Homo sapiens: one gene and its partner. The protein of the gene in region 1 interacts with the protein of each later gene in a pairwise test. Each region holds a gene or a part of one and is shown on either strand. Other genes may lie near its edges.

Evidence for each region. The genes of interacting proteins can lie anywhere in the genome.
Region 2: the proteins of OPRD1 (region 1) and SLC13A4 interact in binary tests that used the Homo sapiens proteins (3 or more experiments, as listed by UniProt).

Annotation. Positions count from the first base shown.
Region 1 is NC_000001.11:28,815,151-28,822,175, forward strand, and holds part of OPRD1 (delta-type opioid receptor), read left to right. Parts: intron 1-7,025. UniProt on the Homo sapiens protein: G-protein coupled receptor that functions as a receptor for endogenous enkephalins and for a subset of other opioids.
Region 2 is NC_000007.14:135,725,180-135,732,102, reverse strand, and holds the start of SLC13A4 (solute carrier family 13 member 4), read left to right. Parts: upstream 1-3,916; 5' UTR 3,917-4,606; coding exon 4,607-4,705; intron 4,706-6,923. UniProt on the Homo sapiens protein: Sodium:sulfate symporter that mediates sulfate reabsorption in the high endothelial venules (HEV).

The DNA of each region.
Region 1 (7,025 bases):
TCTGTTGCCCAGGCTGGAGCGTCGCAATCACAGCTCACTGCAACCTCGACCTCCTGGGCTTAATGCGATCCTCCCACCTCAGGCTCCTGGGTAGCTGGGACTACAGGCACACGCCATGCTAACTTTAGTTTTTTTTGCAGAGACAGGGTTTTGCCATGTTGCCTAGGCTGGTGTCAAACTTCTGAGCTCAAGCAGTCCACCCGCCTCGGCCTCCCAAAGTGCTGGGATTACGGGCGGAGCCATGGTGCCCGGCTGTGTCCCTCCTCTTGTCTTAGAGTCCTCAGAGAGCAGAGACCTGGGGACTATGCTCCTCTGCGTTTTTCAGCCTGTGCATTTTAGGCTGCTGTCCTTTGGGGAGGCTGAATGATAAGGGCTGGCGCTCAGTCCTTCCCCAGTGAACAGTGAACGAGAGTCTGAGGGCAGGGCAGCTGCCTGGGTCTTGGCTTCTGCTGGAAACACCCCAAGGGCAGTGGGGAGAGCGCAGCCCGGGCTGGAGAAGGGACCCTGCTCCCCTGAAGGGCTCCTCGAGCTGCGCTCCATCTGCGGTTTCCTGGCAGCCCAAGCAGGGCCTGCCACAACCAGTACATGAGCCGGCTGCTGGGTTGAGTGAATGAGTGGTTGAATGAGTGAATTCTGCCTGTCAGTCCTGAGCTTAGGCAGCATGTGGGGGGTGGGGAGCAGGTGTGCAAGGGAAGATTCAGAGACCCTTGGGGAAGGAAAGCCGGGTGGTGTAGTGGGCAGAGCTGTGGCTCTGGACCAGACATATCTGAGTTCAAAGCCACTTACTTGCTGTGTACTCGGGCTAGTGACGAGCTGTCTGAAGCTCTTCTCATTAAAGTGGGAACACCAACAGCGCCTCCAGGGTGGGGGTGAGGATTAAGTGGCATAATGTGTGATATCTGAGCCTTTTAGACCCTAAGCTCTTTGAGAACATGAGGGGCTCTGTGTGAAGGACTGAAAAGAATTAACTCATTCTACAACATTCTACATGCTCTGTGCTAAATGCCAAGAAAAAAACCACACCGTGCTCCAGACCTTCCGGAGCTTAGGGTCTGGTGGGAGACAGACATTCGTCAGCCAGTCATCCAATAAACTGAAGTTTGTAGCTGTGGTAGGGGCTATCTGTGAAAGTATGTGGGGGATTTGGGAGCCCATGATGGGGGCAGGGGAGGGTCTCAGCTGGGCGGAGAGATCAGAGAAGCCTCTGCAGAGCTAAAGGACGAGGAGGGGAAACTGAGTCAAAAGCTGAGGGAGGAGCTGTGGCTGGGAAGCAGGATGCTGATGAGGGCCTGAACGTAAGAACCAGGAATCTCAGAATTCCAGGTCAGAAGCATCCTCCATCCTGCAGGCCCCACACTCTGTCCTCTCTCCCCTCCAAGAAGCTACCTGAGAAGCTGTCTCATCCTGGGGGCCTGAGAGGGGCCTCTGGGAATTGTGCTTTTAGCAAACAGCCTGTGGCTGGAGGGAATGAGGCTTCCATGAAGCGTGAGCAGGACTTCTGTGGACAGGTGGTCCCAAGGCAGAGCATCACCCCCTCCTCCTGCATGTGGGATTGGCCAGCACGATGACTCGTGCTGGCCATGGGGATGCCCTGGTCCTCAGAGCAGACACCGGACAACCCCTTCCTCCGGGCAGAGTCAGTGTCCTCTGCAGGGCTGGCATCTCAGAGACTTCCCATGGGCAGCCCACTGGGTAGGTGTGGTGTGATGGGCTTAGCAGGCCCCTCACCTGTGGCAGGTGACCCCCTCTTCCTCCCGCCTGGCCCAGATCCTGGGTGGCCCGACCCAGAACCTGGGCAAGAGGAGTCAGTGCTTTCCTACCTGGCCTCCTGTCTGTTCCACAGCCTTCTCTGTTTCCCTGCCTCCTCTGCGCCCCGAGCTAGGTTTCAGCAGGTTTGTACCCTCGCAGCATGCCCTGCCTCCTGCCAGCCCCGGCCAGCCTCCATGAGACGCCTTCAGCCTGTGTGCTTCTCTGCCCCTTGATCTCACCTCAGCCCATGTCTCTTCTGATTTGTCTCCTTGTATCAAATGCTGGCTCTGCTACTTACTAAGAGCTTTAGCAAGCCGGATCGCCTCACTGCACCTGTCTTCATCGGGAAGATGTGGGTAATAGTACTATCTCATAGGTACCTTTGTCCTCAGGATTAGATGAGATGATGTTGGCAAAGCACCGCGTTTTCCCTCCTATCTGAGGTGACTGCAGCACCCAGCAGGGAGGGGAGTTGGGCCAGGCAGGTGGGCTGTGGCAGGGTCGGGATAGGTGAATGAAGGGTTCTGGTTATTTCTTCAGTCTCCTGCCGAGGTTCCAGAAGCTGCTGGGGAAAATGCTGAAGTGTCTTCTTAGCAGAATTTGTAGCACTGAATCTGTGTCCTGTTTTTGGAAGCCCCTTGGCTTCTTGTCTCCCTCCCCTCTCTTGGGGTCTGGACCCAGGGCCTCTGGGCCAGGAGAGATTCCAGTGAGATGACACAGTGCAGTGGTAAAGGTTGTGACTAGAGGTCAGGGAGCGCCTGGTCTCTATCCATGTCCCAGAGGTGTGGCTTTGGGCAAAAACAGCTTAACTTCCCTTTTTTTTTGGATGGAGTCTCACTGTGTTGCCCAGGCTGGAGTGCAGTGGTGTGATCTCGGCTCACTGCAACCTCTGCCTCCCTGGTTCAAGGGATTCTCGTGCCTCAGCCTCCCCAGTAGCTAGGATTACAGGCGCTCGCCACCACGCCCAACTAGTTTTTGTGTTTTTAGTAGAGATGGGCGGGGCGGGGGGGGGGTTTCACCATGTTGGCCAGGCTGGTCTCGAACTCCTGACCTCAAGTGATCCGCCAGCCTTGGCCTCCCAAAGTGCTGGGATTATAGGCGTGAGCCGCTGCGCCTGGCTCATTTTATCATTTAAAAAATTGGGGCGATATGACAGGTTATTGGGAGGACTCAAAGAGATCGAGCATGGAAAGGCTGTAGCATAGCACCTGGCATGCCCTGCGCTGTGGTTTCCTGCAGTGGCTGCAGGTGGGCAGAGTGCAGGTGGGCTGTTGAGGCCTGGTCGTCTATGTTTTCCACCTTTGGCCCTTTCCCATGTCCTGCATTGCCTGCACGTGTACTCAGTCAGTAAAGCATTTGCTGATGCTGACCCATGCCAGGCCTGTCCAGCCTCAGCTCTCACTGCCCAGACCCACAGCTTAAACCTCCATACGCCCCCTGGCTCCTAACACAGCTATGTCCCATGCCACCCCCTGGTTAGTTGCAACTCCACAGACAAGTGCAGCTCCCTGGAACTATGGGAGTCCAGGGAGTCTCCAGACCCAGCCAGAGGAGGGGATGCCTGTGCATCATGGAGGGGAGCAGCAGTTGGCTCCCTGGAGAGGTGTGAGTGGAGCATTCCAGATAGAGGGAACCACAGGAGCAATGATTCACCAATTCACCGAGGCTGAGACGAGAGTGTTGGGGACCAGGGTGGCTGTGAGGATGGAGAGGCTGCAGGGACAAAAGCAGGAAAGGCGTCGTAAGCAGGTGTCCTTCTTACCATAGTGTCAAAAGCACCTGCTAGGTGCTGAGCTTGGCTGGGCTCGGGAGCCACCCATGATTCCTGAGGAGATACACCTGGTAGAGTAGCCCCAGGTAATTGGAGGCAGGTGTTCTCATGGGGATGGTGAGAGGGAGGGCTGAGGAGAGGCCTGGAGGCAGGCCCAGCATGACTGTGTGAGGAGCCAGAGGCCGTGCTGAGGTTCTAGTCTGGATGTGGGAGCTGAGGCTGGACAGGTCCTCAGGGGTCCCATGGTAAGGTTGGCGTGCTGGGAAATGAGGAAGCTTTGGGTCACAGGCCATGGGGAGGGGGATTTTGGAGCAATCTGTGCAGAATGGTCTTCAAGAGAATGAATTTGGTGTGGGGGTGAGGGGTGGATTGGATGGGGAGGGGCTCAATGTGGGGAGACTAGAGAGGGTGGCTCAGGGCAATGAAAAGAGAGCCATGTGACCTTGGATGGGGCCATTAAAACCCTGTGCTCAGCTGTCCCCTTTCTGAAATGGAGTGCTGTTGGACCTAACAAGAAGGCAGGAAGCTGTGCATGGTGGTGCATGCCTGTAATCTCAGCTATTCAAGAGGCTAAGATGTTGATCAGACTGGACAACATAGCAAGACCCCATTTCAAAAAAAAAAGGAAGGAGGCAGCAGGAGGAGGCTGGGCTAGATGACTTCTGGTGAGGCTGAGCAGAGAGAACAAGCAGCAGCCCTGGCTGCTGTTCCTGCTGCATCTCTTGGTCTTGCCTGGAGCCTGCTTCTTCCTGGGTCTTGGGTTCATTCCCTGGGGAGTGTGTGTGACTTACAGACGCACTGCGGTGGGTCCATAGGAGTCACTGAGAACACTGAAAAGCCTCTTCCTAAGCTTCTGCCACATGCCAGAGGCTTCTGGATCCAGAGGCCATATTGAGGTTGAAGTATGCAAGCTGCACCACAGCCCTGTGATGGGGGCTTTCTGTTCTCATTTGCAAATGGGGACAAGAAGGCTCAGAGGGAGCGAGTGCCTCTCACAGCAAGAGAGGGGTGGAGTCGAGATTCCAACCCAGGCCTCTCTGACTCCAAAATCACTCCATGTTTCCATCTGCTGCTGCTGTCCATGACATGGCGGAATGGAGGCGAGTGCTGGGGACGTCTAGGTAGAGAAGCGAGGAATGGGGATGGGGTAGAGGGTAGATTGCTGTCTGCAAATCTCTGAGGCCTCTGCATGGGGTGGCAGCAGTTGAGAGCCTGGGCATTGGAGCCAGACTGACCTGGAATTACATCCCAGCGGTGCCATTTACTAAGAGAGTGAGCTTGAACAATACATACACACCCTCTCTGAGCCTCAGCTTTATCATCTGTGAAACGGGAGTAGTGATAGACCCTCACAGAGTGGTTATGAGGAGTTCACGAGGCCTGATATGAGGGACTTCAGCACAGAGCTAGGCATTTGGTATGTGGTCAATAAACATCTTCTGTAATTATGACTATTTAGAAGAGGAGTCACACTTGCTTTGCATTCATTTGATTGACATTTATCGAGCCTCAGAGGAACTAGATTTTTTTTTTTTTTTTTTTTTGAGATAGTCTCGCTCTGTTGCCCAGGCTGGAGTGCAGTGACGCAATCTTGGCTCACTGCAACCTCTGCCTTCTGGGTTCAAGCAATTCTCTTGCCTCAACCTCCTGAGTAGCTGGGATTACAGGTGTGTGCCAACATACTAGGCTAATTTTTGTATTTTTAGTAGAGATGGGGTTTCACCATGATGGCCAGGCTGGTCTCCAACTCCTGGCCTCAAGTGATCCACCTGCCTCAGCCTCCCAAAGTGCTGGGATTACAGGTGTGAACTGGAACTAGAATTATTGAGTGGGTGGTATAGGGAAACTTTATCAACTCAATATTATAAATTTTCAGCTGGGTGCAGTGACTCACGCCTGTAATCCTAACACTTCGGGAGGCAAAGCAGGAGGATCACTGGAGTCCAGGAGTTCGAGACCAGCCCGAACAATATGGCAAGACCCTGTCTCTACAAAAAAATTAAAAAGTTAGCTGAGCATGGTGGCATGCACCTGTAGTCCCAGCTGCTTGGGTGGAAGGATGGCTTGAACCCAGAAACTCAAGGTGACAGTGAGCTATGATTGTACCACTGCAGTCCAGCCTGGGCAACAAAGCGAGATCCCATATCTCAAACTCCTGACCCCAGGTGATCTGCCCGCCTCTGGCCTCCCAAAGTGCTGGGATTACAGGTGTGAGCCACCGCATCTGGCCTGAGACCCCATATTTAAAAAAAAATTTTTTTTTCTTCTACAATAAAAGGTAACAAACTTATTTCAGAAAATGTGGAGAAATTTAAGCAGAGACAGACATTATCCATAATCCTACCACAGAGAAAAGAGCTTTTTCATTTTGGTGTGTTTCCTTCCCATCTCTTTTCTGTCTCTCTTTCTGTTTCTCAATTTTATTTATTTTTATTTATTCATTTTTTTTGAGACAGAGTCTTGCTCTTGTCATCCAGGCTGGAGCACAATGGCACAATCTCGGCTCACTGCAACCTCTGCCTCCCGGGTTCAAGCAGTTCTCCTCCCTCAGCCTCCCAAGTAGCTGGGATTACAGGTACCTGCCACCATGCCCGGCTAATTTTTGTATTTTTAGTAGAGATGGGGTGTCACCATCTTGGCCAGGCTGGTCTTGAACTCTTCTCTTGACCTCAGGTGATCCACCTGCCTTGGCCTCCCAAAGTTCTGGGATTACAGGCATGAGCCACCGTGCCCAGCTTATTTTTATTTTTGAGATGGGGATCTCCTTATGTTGCCCAAGCTGGTCTTGAACTCCTGGACTCAAGTGATCCTCCCACCTTGGCCTCCGAAAGTGCTGGGATTACAGTCATGAGCCGACACACCCAGCTTTGTTTTTCCATTTTAGTGAAATCAGGGTCACATGTCGAAGTCATGATCGCATTGCATGTAATATTTTGTGAGATGCCTATTCACTTAACATTATATGTTAAGCATGTGCTCTTCTAGTTTGAAAACATGATTTTTGATGGCTACATTGCATGAATGTGTTCTTTTTCCAGTGACTTTTATAATTTCCAATATTATGCCAATCTAAATAATGCTGCTGCTGCCCGGGCATGGTGGCTCACCCCCATAATTCCAGCACTTTGGGAGGCCATGGTGGGAGGATCACTTGAGCCCAGGAATTCAAGATCAGCACAGGCAACATAGCAAGACCCTGTCTCTAAAAACAAAAAAATAGTAATCATACATAATGCTGTGAACATTCTTAGACATGTGTGTTTGCGCACATCTCATTATTTCTTTCTTTTTTTTTTTTGAGATGGAGTTTTGCTCTTGTTGCCCAGGCTGGAGTGCAATGGCGCAATCTCGGCTCACCACAACCTCCGCCTCCTGGGTTCAAGCGATTCTCCTGCCTCAGCCTCCCGAGTAGCTGGGATTACGGGCATGCGCCACCATGCCCGGCTAACTTTGTATTTTTAGTAGAGATGGGGTTTCTCCATGTTGGTCATGCTGGTCTCTACCT
Region 2 (6,923 bases), on another chromosome or scaffold:
CCAGGTTTGTTATAATTCTATGTTAAATAAGAGTTAATAGATGAAGTCCTCTGCTAGGGGTCGAGCGTCTGGGTCCTAATAAGGATTCCTCATTAGCTCAGAGATCTTTCTGTCTTCTCCTAAGTTTACAGCTGAGCTCAGCAAGCAAAAGCTGCAACAAGTCTGATCTTTGAATGAGTGAGGATTTATTGGGCTAAATTTGATTCTGAAATGGGTATTTAACAGTTGTCATTTGATAATGATGAGGTCTGGACTCCTTCAAAATCTTTGAGCAAATAAGCTTTGCATAGCAGTGCTAGCCGCATGATCTTTTTGGAGAAATACTAGGACACTGGAAGAAGGTATTCATCATCAGAGAAAAACACAGCTTTGCATCCTGATATTCTCAGGCTCAGAAGATTAGTAAGTCTCAGTTTCTCTTTCTCATTCCCTGACCATTCTGCTCTTTTACCTCCTCCAAATGCAGATTCTGATATATGCTTTTTTTGTTCAATCTTTCTTTTTCTAAATGTACATATTCTCTCTGACATGGTCACTCTGCTTGTCTCTGTCTTTCTTTCTTTTATTTTAGTTGGTATCTCTGCTGCTGTATATTTGGGCCCAATTCCAAATATCTCTGTATCTGTTTTTTGATGCATCTCCAAGACTCTTCTGCTTGACTTTTGCTCTATCTCTGCTGACCCACACTCTAACACTCACTGTCTGTCAGTCTTCTCTGGGTATCATTGTCTAAGTAAAACACAAGTCAGTGTACAGACAGCGTTGGGATCGGCCAGAGGCAGATAAACATGGTAGCCTATCTTCACAGTTTGTACTTTTCCTAGATGTCAGATGGGGAGTGGATTAGCAATGGCCTCAGTCCCTAGACACTGTGCAATACCCTGATAGTCAGTCTTGTATCCCGCCCCGAGGCTCCACTCCCTTGACAATGGATCTGAAAGCTTTCTTGTACTCAGAATCATCAGATGGAAAGGCCCACCCTTGTAGTCCCTGACCACCATGTTATGTAGATGGCTGCTCCCAGTAGTAAGAAATCCATGAATGGGAAGATGGTTCCCAGGAACATTCACCCAGCAACAAAAAAATTAAACACAAATTGGGGCTTGAATTTTTGTGGCAATCAATGACTGAAAAAAAAATAGAAAAAAGAAGGACATGACCTTTTTAAAGACAAATGAAGACTCATTTTCAGTAACTAGAGTCTTAAAAACTATTTTAATCTGAATGCAGATCATTGTTTACCCACAGAGAGTTTTATGACAATGATTTCACTGACATGCAGAATCAAATATTATGATCACCACCAGCAGCCAAAAAACCCTATTCTTTGCCCAAGGAGTAGTAGAAATGTAGACTAGACAGACAAACAGGGTCTCCTATTTTGCCTCATTAGTGCCACACTCTATACAACTACAGTCACGAAGGGGTCACATTTGGTTATAATTACTATTAGAATAATATGGGAGTGTGATGTTTGTGGTGGAAACTTGCCCATGACTTATGTAACCATTTCTGCTGACAAATTTTAGGATCTAAAAACTTTGTGGGTTTTTTTGTTTTGTTTTTGTTTGTTTGTTTTTGGGACAGTCTCGCTCTGTCACCCAGGCTGGAGTGCAGTGGCACCTCCGCCTACAGTGTTCAAACGATTCTCCCACCTCAGCCTCCCAAGTAGCTGGGACCACAGGCACACGTCACCATGCCCTGCTAATTTTTTTGTATTTTTAGCAGAGATGGGGTTTCACCATGTTGGCCAGGCTGGTCTCAAACTCCTGACCTCAAGTGGTCCACCTGCCTCAGCCTCCCAAAATGCTAGGATTACAGGCGTGAGCCACCGTGCCTGGCCCAGGATCTAAAAACTTTCTAAGTTTCCTCCATCGTTGGCATCCTCACAGCTATCTCCAATGTCACTCAAGAGACATCAACAGACATTTAACTGCTGCAGACTTCATTGCTCTGTCACCTCACCTTGAATCTAACAAATCAAAGTATTTCTGCAGGTCCAATGGTCTAAAATCAAATGCTTGTTAAATGACTTTTTACAACACCCCTTACTTTCCTAATCCATTTCAATCTTATTTTTTTTATTGTGGTAAAAAACACATCAGGTAAAATGTACCATCTTAACCATTTTTAAGCATATGGTACAGCAGTGTTAACTCCATGCATGTTGTGAAACAGACCCCCGGAACTTTCTCATCTTGTAATTCTGAAGTTCTATACCCACCGAACAACTCCTCTTTTCCCCTTCCCCCTGCCTGCCCCAGCTCTTGGCACCATTATTCTGCTTTCTGTTTTTGAGAGTCTGACTACTTAAGATACCTCATACAAGCGGGATCTGGCTTACATTTCTTGAGCATTGTATTCTGGAAAAGTGTTTCCTTCCTCTGAAAAATGGGTAGAGTTCTGAAGGAGAACTACTGGTCTTATTGTACACTTGCTGTACCTATTTTTATTTAACAAATATTCATCTATGGTATAATAAAGATGTCATGATTGAGTTGCTCACTGGAATCTTTGTTATCTCAGAGTATCTCACCGAGGAATTTGGAATGGTTCATGGGTTTAACAGTGGATGTTGACTTCCACAGCTGCTTATAATTATTCGCTGTCTTTAATGTTTGCGACCAAAACATCACACACGTGGTATTGTTCATTCTGAGTTTCAAAATCATAACCAAAAAAAAATGAGGCCAGAATGTAGTAAATACAGTAGCCAGTCTTTAACATGCATTTAAAGAGTTGAGTCATCCTAGCCCATCCTACGATGGCAAGATAATTTCAAAGGGGACCTCAGCTGTCCACAGTTGCACCTGCCTTAAAAGTCAAGAAGAATTTGTTTTTTGGGTCACTTCCCTGGTCACTTTAGCCTGGGGATCATTTCCAAGTAGTATAGTTGCAGATCTTCGAACGCCATTCCTGTGTTCTGTGAATTCAAGACAACATGGGTTTTATAACCCTTTGACTCTGCTCAGCATCTCCCAGATCAAGGTAAGGTAATGTTGCCAAGAACCACTACTTACAGAATGTTTGGGCTTTTGCTTTTGCTTTTCTTCCTTGCCCCAAATCCACATGTCCGTTCTGAGAAAAGAAGCTAACAACTTCTTCCAATCTGTAAACAGGAGAAATTCCAGAGTTCAACTGCAGCTAAGACCTTGTCCCTGAACTTGTCAACTTCTTCCCTGCCCTCCCACCTCCTCCTTTCGTACCAGCCAAAGAAGGTCTTCGGTTTCCTTTTTGGAGAGCCCCAGAGAGAAGCATTTGAGCACCTACTTTAGCCAGAGAGACCACTGACATCTGGGCATGAGACTGGCATCTAGACTTTGCCAGGGAGGCAGCTATACTTCCCAAAAGATCTGGGGTCTTTCTCACGAGCTCATACCCTCTGCTGGCCTAGACCCTTTATATTCCCCCCTCGGTGCTGAGGCAAACGATCTTTGCCAGCAGGGAGGTCTGAAAGGCTTAACTTTGTACACTCTGAGGCAAATTCTCCAGAAGTAATGTTGCATTTTCTCCCTGCCACCAGGCACATTCCCTTCCCAAGGTCTAGATCAGCAGGTGGCCCTCCCAGCGAAAGCTCTGTGTCCTATGATCCGAAACAATAAAGCTGTGCTTGGGTACGTGAGATTATGTTTACGATGATGGTCATCACTCCAGCCCTAGGAAGTTTGAGAAACTGAAAAATAAGCTTAGCAGGCTGCCTAGGTTCTGCGGAATCAGCAGGCCCCCGCTGTGACCAATCAAGAGCGGCCGCGGGGAGAGAAATTGACTCATTCTTTTCAATTTGCTGATTGGCTTTGAGAAGTGGGCGGAGCTACTGTCTCTGTCCCGGCTTCCCATTGGTGGATGAAAGTTAAAGGTGGGCCTCCAGCAAGTTTTGTCCTTTGATAAAAAGGAATGTCTTGGGGACTTTTCTTTTCTGCTTTGCAGGCCCAGGCTCAAGGCAAATTATAAGTAGGGAACCAATTTGAGGGAAAGACATGTGAACAGAGTTAAGGTACCACGTCCTGGGAGCGACCAGCAGCCCCACCTGAAGTCCGCATGCAACTCTGACAAGCTCAGGTGCTTGTTTTAAGGAAAGGGGCTACTAGAGTCTTACCAACAGCGAGCCCAGGTGGGAGATGAAACAGGTACTCCCCAAAATAGGTCATCCGAGGGAGGAAAACTGATGGAGAGCACAATGTGCTCTGAGCGTTTTTAATGTTTTTAAGCTTTTAAATGATTTCTTCAAGGCCGAGCAGCAGCAGCAAAGGTGTGGCTTAAAGGATTAAGGGGGTTTCTGCTGACACCTAGAATGAAGTTACTCTATTACTAATCAAGCCGAGAGGAGGCCCACTATGCCCCCGTTTATCATCCTTTCCCAGTTCCTTTTTGCTGGTCACAAAACGATGCTCATCAATCCCACCTAAAGCAGGAGGCCAGGAGCCCAGCCTCTTGTAGAAACAGCGAGGGTATAACTGCCCTCCCGTTCTGCCCCCAAGACGAAGGAGGACTCTCGGAAGCCAAGAAAGGTTTAAGAAGTCTTTCTGGATAGAGAGCAGTGCCCAGGCAGGAAGCCTTTCGCCGGCAGAGCGGGGTCCAAGGACGAGCTGGAGAGGACAGAGGCGCGATGGGCCTGCTGCAGGGCCTGCTCCGAGTCCGGAAGCTGCTGCTGGTCGTCTGCGTCCCGCTCCTGCTGCTGCCTCTGCCCGTCCTCCACCCCAGCAGCGTGAGTACCGACCTGCGCCCACCGGGGGTCTGGGAGTCAGTGGGAGGGCAAAGAGGGGAGGTCGGTAGGGGAACATGGGGCGCTCAGGCAGTCCCTCAAAGTGGCTTGTGGTGGGTTTAAAGAAATGGAAGGATTTTTCCAGAGGAAACCAAGATATCTTCTTCCTAAAAGCTGTCATGTTCATCTCCTATCCCAGTCCCATTCCCCCAACCCCATGGCCCCCACCGGGGTCAGGACAGAGTAGGGGCCTTGGCAGAAGTGACTGATGGGTGTTGCACCAAGCAGCAGGCCAGCCTGCCCCAGCAGCGGGGGCCAGCGACACCCATGCAAACGACATGGTGCACCTGTGTTTGTCGGGAGTTCACCTGGGACCCTGGTTATCTGAGAGCCCCTGGAGACACAGAAAGAGCTCCCAATAGTGGCACTGAGGAGAAGGTTGGGGGAGGAAGAGAACCGTGGAGCCAATCCGTGGTCTGTGGTCGTGTCCTGGTGGGCTTCGATGACCACAGTTGAAGCTCTAATCCCGAAGGCGCCTATCAACTTCAGGGAATGAATGTTTAGGGAAGGAATGAAAGCAGAACTTAGCAGGCTGCCCTGCTCCCATGCACGTGGCCTTGAATTATTTGTGTCTTCTGTGTTTTCTTCTCTGTCCTCTTGAAGGACAGACAAAAAGTGACACGATAAAAAAGAGATAAGAGCCCCCAAACTCTAGCCCGTGACCTCATTCTTCACCTGGTTTGTGAGAACAGAGGAACCTCAGCTCTGGCTCAGCATCCAGCTTGCCTGTCACACCCTCCTGGTGGTCACCTGCTTCCCTTCCCTTCCCTCCGCTGTTCTCTTCCTCCTGTCTGTGGCTTGTCCCCTTCCCCCAGCTGGCACTGCCCTGGAGACTTTAGGAAAAATAAGCTAAAACAGGTTAATCACGTTTGTAGGAGGGGGAGCAATTCTTCCACTCTGCTCCTTAAGTAACTTGGTAACCAAGATTAAGTTAAACAGTTAAACAGAGGGGATTAGGATGGTTCTTCTTAAAAACAAACTGGCTTAAATCTTTCATAGAATAAATACTCCAGAGTGCCAGGGAGACGCTGATTAAAACTGGGCTGGGATTAGCAGACAGTGATTGCTGCTGACATTCTTCCTGGACTGTACCCTAGTCAATTTTCTGCTTTGTCCAAATGGGCCTGATTTTTTTTCTTTTTGTGGCTTTTCTTGTTTTTGTTTTTTCTCCATGTAGGTTGCTATAAGGGACTGTTACCGAGAGACATACTAGCCTCCTCTCCCAAGCAGTATCAGGAACCTCTCATATCTCCTGGTTGAGGCAGCCCCATCTTTGGGGACCTTGGCCACTGCCCACAGAAGGCACAGACTAGGTGCCCAGCAGGTAGAGTTTCATCCATCCGTCACCCCTTTCATCAAACTTTTTTTTGTAGACGCAGAGTCTCACTCTGTCACCCAGTCCGGAGTGCGGTGGCACAATCGTAGCTCACTGCAGCCTTGAGCTCCTGGGGTTAAGCAATCCTCGTGCCTCAGCCTCTGGAGTAGCTGGGACTACAGGCAAGCAAGTACCACCACATGCAGCTAATTTTTAAAAAAATTTTTTTTGTAGAAATGGGGGTTTCACTATGTTGCCCAGGCTGGTCTCAAACTCATGGTCTGACGTGATCCTCCCAAAGTGTTGAGATTACAGGTGTGAGCCACCGTGCCTGGCCTGCATCAAACTTTTAGAGTCTGATATTTAACCCTTAAAATTCCAAATGGATTTTCTTGCTCTGGACTGGAGTTGAGAGCAGTGATGGAGTACCTGGGCAGGAGCTCCTGGCCTGCAGTTTTGATGGTTCTAAGCGACAAGCCTCAGCTACATTTTAGGAGGAGTCAAAATGACCTTCCCCCTTTTTCTTGCCCAACTCTCTAAAACTAGAGGTCCAGACACTGTTTATCATGTTATAGAAGAAGAGGGTACAAGAGACAGCATCCATAACTAAGCCCTTCCTCAGTGCCCCCAGTGGGATAAAAGTTGCATCTCAACTGCCCAAGCTAAATTTTTTAAAAGGCGCCCCCAGTCATTGATGATAACAGATAACAGACTTCAACCTCCTTCCCGTGAAGTTGGAGTGGGATATCACTGGGGTGGTCAAACTGCGTGGAAAACGAGCAGTTCCACGCCTAAGTGAGTAGCTGACTAGGAAACGTCCTACATGGGGAAATGCCACTTTCGAAC